Regions from separate parts of the Homo sapiens genome. Here region 2 is linked to region 1. The links come from fine-mapping of genetic effects on gene expression. A gene starts in region 1. The other region holds a variant in brackets. All regions are shown on one strand. Distances are from middle to middle.

What was found. PIP is the estimated chance that this variant, and not a neighbour inherited with it, causes the effect. A credible set is the group of variants that fine-mapping cannot tell apart.
Region 2: its variant is the best candidate, but not a certain one, in a credible set for the expression of TMEM242 in B cells (Fairfax 2012, PIP 0.87).

Annotation. Positions count from the first base shown.
Region 1 is chr6:157,322,068-157,324,973 of GRCh38, forward strand. It overlaps TMEM242 (transmembrane protein 242), which reads right to left and starts at 1,452. Exons shown (of 4, transcript NM_018452.6): 1 at 1,345-1,452; 2 at 638-738. The coding sequence starts at 1,432. TMEM242-DT (TMEM242 divergent transcript) reads left to right here and starts at 1,567. Exons shown (of 1, transcript NR_187268.1): 1 at 1,567-2,410. RefSeq lists enhancers at 1,215-1,554, 1,735-2,164.
Region 2 is chr6:157,608,777-157,611,682 of GRCh38, forward strand. All of the region lies in intron 3 of ZDHHC14 (zDHHC palmitoyltransferase 14), which reads left to right. Among named protein-coding and RNA genes, the nearest start is that of MIR3692, 81 kb to the left of the region's middle. The variant G/T (reference allele first, on the strand shown) is at 1,535.

The sequences.
Region 1 (2,906 bases):
TTACGTAACACTTTTCCTCCATAGCACACATCAAATTGTAATTACACAGTTATTTGTGTGAATATTTATTTATTTATTTTTGAGACAGAGTCTCGCTCTGTCACCCAGGTTGAAGTGCAGTGGTGTTATCTGGGCTCACTACAACCTCAGCCTCCTGGGTTCAAGTGATTCTCCTGCCTCAGCCTCCCGAGTAGCTAGGACTACAGGAGTGCCACACCACACCTGGCTCATTTTTGTATTTTTAGTAGAGATGGGTTTTCGCCATGTTGGCCAGGCTGGTCTCAAACTCCTGACCTCAGGTGATCTGCCCCTCTCGGCTTCCCAAAGTGCTGGGATTACAGGCATGAACCACGATGCCTGGCCCAAATTTAGATTCAAAGTCATGTTGTGAATAGGAAATGTACCAGATAAGCTTTCAAAGTCTTGTTCCGCTAAAATTTAAGAAAGCACATAAGTACATCCTTCTAAATGAAAATAAAGACTTGGTTAATTTGTACATTTCTAGAATCCATGAGCGTATATAAATTCACATCTTAAAGCAATGTGAAAGACCATCAATATTTTATTTTTTCTACGCAAAAGCTGCCATATATTGTAAACAATAACAATGCTATGAATGGATTTCAGTGTCACCAACCTTATTGAACCATTCAGGGCTTTTCTTTTTAGCCAATGATAATGTTGTAATAAATCCAGCTAGCATTCCCGCTGCAGCAACGGTACCAAGGAAAATTCCACCTGCCAAGAGTTTCGGGGAGGAGGGGGGATATTAAAAAAAATTAAATAAAAAGAGGTTAAAAAGATGTACAAAAGTAAGTTTAAGATACTATTCGAGTTACAATCAAAATCACTTTTGAAATTCAAGAAACCATGGCTAAGCAGCTCTTGCTAACAGTAAATGACAGCGGCTGAGAAACACGCGTGACCGCACGACCTCTGGTTCCTTGGGTCATTCCGAATTATTATTCCCGAGCGCAGAGAAAAGGTTCAGCTTCCCTTCCCCTCTCCCCTGGGACCACAGCGTGAAGTTTCTCACGGGGAGGAGAAGAGACGATGGCAATCAGAAAAGGCAAGGCTCTAGAACAATTGCAGAGGTGACGGGGAAATATGGCACGCCCGGGAGAATAGCTCGCGGGATCTGCCCCCCGCCCCGCCCAAGGGGAGACTCCACCCAGTAAGCGACCTACCCTCCCTGGGCCGCCAGACTCCGCGGGCTAAACTCAGGGGCAAGCACAAGCTAAGGGCTCTCAGAGCGGGATGTGTGTGGGAATGCCCGCTCCAGAGCAAGCCAGGGTCCGGGGTTAACTCACCCCGACGCCCGCACCTCACCACAGCACATCTTACCTTTAACCAGGAAAAGCCGGTCATTCGTGGACCCCGGAGCCTCCAGCCCAGAGGCCGGCTGCCCAGTTGCAGCGCCCGCTGTCTCCATGTTTAGGTCGCCTCTAGTGCGTCCGTCCCCAACTGGGCCCGGGTGGAAGCGAGAACCAGGCGGAGGAGAAAGGTTCCGCTACCGCCTCCTCCTGTGCAATCTGAAGAAGGGTCCGGAGTGCGGCCGCTGTCCCCAAACCCTCCTCCCGCGCCGGGGCCGGGAAGACGTGCTGTGCCCAGCCCCAGGGGCGATGCCCTCCAAGGCCGTCTCTTAGGGAGGATCTTTTGATTTCTCCAAGGAGATCATTGCTGGACTTAAGTGATTACTTTGGCTGTTTGAAAGAACGCTCAGCCCCGACTGTAGGAGGCAGTGAGGGTCGCAGATTGCGCCAAGATTCCAGGCCCCGCCTGTGAGACCCTGGAGCTCATTTTCCTGATCAAGCTTACATTGTGTCCAACGATTTGGCCAGCGCTAACACTCCACGATTCTAAAACGCAAGCCTAGGTCTTCTGTCTGTACTTTTCTAGGTAACTTCCCAACAGTGTTGAGGAATAAGTGACAGGCTTTCTCCCTGGAGGAGAGCCAGCCACCCGGTTCTGCGGTGACGGGTACCTCCGCCGCGGTGTGAGTGCTCGGCCTCCGTCGGGAAGTGGAACACTCACAGGATGACCGAATGAAAGTACCACCCCCGAAAGGAGAGCGACGCCCGCTGGAAGCGCTTGCAGAGCTGCCGGCAACGTTGACCGCTAGCAAGCTTGGTCTTCCGCTGGGAGGCTGGTTTGCCCATTCTGTAAATGGCCGTGGAGAGGAGGAGGCTAGTGGTGATAGAAAATCTTTTCAGCCTCTCAGAGAACAATGACATCTTGTAAAATAAGGCGGTCTCTCTGCTATTTGTCCTGCCCCCCATCACCGGAGGGCATGAGTTTCCTGAGGATGGAGATGGGACTCTATGTTCAGTTTATATCCCCCAGCTTTCAGATATTAACTGGTTACCAACATCAAATGCATGTTGGATGAATGAGTAAATGAATGCATCCATTTTTGCGTCAGTGAAGTGCAGTTAATAGCTCAAACCTGGGCTCGGGTCCTAAACCGCTTCTCAGGTGTGTGAACTTGGGGTAACTTAGCCCCTCTATAGCTCAGTTTCCTCACCTGTAAAATTTAAAAACTGGTAGTAGGCCAGGCGCGGTGGTTCACGCCTGTAATCCCAGCACTTTGGGAGGCTGAGGCAGGTGGAGATCAGAAGTTCGAGATCAGCCTGGCCAACATGGTGAAACCCCGTTTCTACTAAAAATACAAAAATTAGCGGAGTCTAATGATGCGGGACTGTAATCCCAGCTACTCGGGAGGCTGAGGCAGGAGAATGGCTTGAACCTGGGAGGGAGAGGTTGCAGTGAGCCGAGATCGAGCCGTTGCACTCCAGCCTGGATGACAAGAGTGAAACTCTGCCATCCACCCCATCCCGCCCCCCCCACACACAAAAACTGATAGTACCTAACTCATAGGATTACTGTGAGAATTAAATGAAGCAACA
Region 2 (2,906 bases), 290 kb after region 1:
CTGTCTCTCCAGCAGAGAACAAACTGGATGGTGGCACGACAGAGCCAAGGAGACGAGAGGGGGGGCTGTCCCCACAGGGCGGGACAGGGCACTAGAGTCCAGGCCAGGGCAGTGGCCAAGGAGACAGAAAGATGTGGATGATTCCAGAAAAATTTCAGCCAAAGAACTGACAGGACTTGATACTTCATTAAATTCCTGGAGTTGGGGCAAAGGAGAGTGCTTGACCCCTCTGGTTCCTGAGAGCATGGTTTTTTCCCCATGCTACCAAGTAATGCTTTTAAGGAAAAGTAGAGTTCACATATTTTAAGTGGATCATGGCTTGGTGACCTGAGTCTGTAAAGTATGTAATTCAGTGTAACTACCTGGACCCCTTGGGTTCTTGGTCCAGAAGTTGATCTGTGGCAGCCTAAAATAAACATGAGGACCTCGAAACAGTGGGATCAGCTCCAAAGAGCCAGAGCTGAGCACTGCCTGTGTCAAAAGGTGCGCACCTGGAGGGAAAGCGAGAGGTGGGAAATGGATGTAGCAGCAATGGCACTGGACAGGAGAGGCCTTAGAAGGAGCCGAGGGCAGCTTGCACTGGGCAGAGAAGTCCACGGCTGGCCCTGAAGGAGAAGCTGCTTTGTGTAGGGTGATGGCCACTCCAGGAACAGCTGAGGATGATTGCCAGGGCACTCAGGATGCTCCCTTTATCCAGAATGTCTTCCCATCATCATCTCTCTCTTTTGCCCGGTGATCTACAATTTACAAAGCAACGTCATAAAGAGCAGGAAGAGTTTTGTGTTGAGTGAGGTAGGTTGCTCGAGGGTCTTAAATAAGAAGTGCCATCATGTGCCACAAGTGGGGAGTCCATCTTCCATTCTGCTCTGAGCAGTGAGTGTCTTTCCCTGTCTTGTGGGGTCACAGAATAGGGACCAGAGGAGGTGGCCGGGCACTGAGCTTGCAGATGGTGGCCCAAGGAGTAAGCAAGCCCTTCAGGAGAGCCGGTGGACAGCAATGGAATGCTTGAAGGGGCTCTGTGCAGGGGCTGAAGCCAGTGGAGTTGGAAGAAGAGCCCAAAGTGTCAAGGGGAACAAGCAGTGGGACCCAGAGGCAGATCCAGCCTGGATCAGGGTCTGCTCACCCAGGCCTGCCTTAAAGTAGCAACAACTCCTTGGGGACAAAGAACTGGGGAGTAATCTCACAACATACTTTTTGGAAATTTTGCCTCTGACTTTGTGGGGTGAATCATTGAAGTTCATCACAGAGGGGGCTGCAGGCCATCCCAGGGGAGTCCTTTGTTGGCATCATAGAGGCCCACGCAGTGACCCCCAACCACCTTAAATATTCACAGACAGCTGAACTGGGCAGATCCCACCCACGACCTGAGTCAAGAATCTACACCTGGGCTGGGCGCAGTGGCTCACACCTGTAATCCCAGCACTTTGGGAGGCCGAGGCAGGCGGATCATGAGGTCGGGAGATCAAGACCACGGTGAAACCTCGTCTCTACTAAAAATACAAAAAATTAGTCAGGCGCGGTGGCAGGTGCCTGT[G/T]GTCCCAGCTACTCGGGAGGCTGAGGCAGGAGAATAGCGTGAACCCGGGAGGCGGAGCTTGCAGTGAGCCGAGATCAGGCCACTGCACTCCAGCCTGGGTGACAGAGCAAGACTCCGTCTCAAAAAAATAAAAATAAAAAAGAATCTACACCTGAAGTAGAAACTAACTACCCTTCTGCCATGAAGTTCTGCAGAGCCTCCTTTTATCTCAACAGGCTCCACATTTCAGGTTCCTGTCGGTCACTCCTGAGAGTCTCAACAGCCCCTGGAGGTCAGGATGGAGGGAGGGGCTACACATTCCAAGAAGGAGAGGCAGCGTTGGCCCACAGAGCGGCCTTGGTCTCAATGTTGGACTTGGAGGACTGGAGCTTGTGGACAGACCCATGTTGTCCGAGCTCTCATCCTGAATGCAGAAAGCCAGAATGCAGATTTGTTCATTTTCAACAGATGACTGCAGGACCAACGTTGTCACAGGGGCCAGCATTCTCTCACCAGGCAAAGCCAGCCGCTTCTCTGCCTGGTATCAAGCTGCCTGGGCAGCCAATTCGTAATCAGAGTGCCAATTTATAAGTGTAGAATGAGAAATAGAACTGCCACAGGAAGCAGAATCACTGCCTGGTCGGCCCTGTGGGACTTTCTGGAGACTTCTGTCAAATATGCTCGTGTAAGACTGGGAGCCATGAATAAATGCACATTTTTGTTTGTTTTTGTTTTTGTTTTGTTTTTTGAGACAGGGTCCTGCTCTGTCTGCTGGAGTGCTGTGATGCAATCTCCACCTCCCGGGTTCAAGCCATCCTTCTGCCTCAGCCTCCCCGAGTAGCTGGGGCTATAGGCACGCGCCACCATGCCCAGCTAATTTTTGTATTTTTAGTAGAGACAGGGTTTCACCATATTGGCCAGGTTGGTCTCAAACTCCTGACCTCAGGTGATCTGCCCACCTCGGCCTCCCAAAGTGCTGGGATTACAGTCATGAGCCCCCGCGCCTGGCCAATATGTGTACTTTTAAAAAGTGCTTTGATAGAGGATTCTGATGTAAAATAATGCGTCTAACGTAAATTTTTTAAGGTATCACGTCTTTTTTATTCTGTGCATTTATTTAGAAACTGTTTATGACAAAAGAGTGAGATTACATGTCTAATACAGTTTTTTGGAGAGAGCATCCCTGGCCAATAGGAAAGCTTCAACAACAGAATTTCTGGGGCCTCCCGGGCACATTTTCATCCTGTTCTGGCTTTGTCAGTGATACTCAACTGCAGTGTCAGTGCCCAGTGCAAAGAGACCTTCTTCCAAGGCAAAGGTAGATGTGTGCCTGCAGGTTGGAGACGATCCAGCAAGGGAGGGTGGACTCTGGCCAAGTGCTCACCTTATTTCT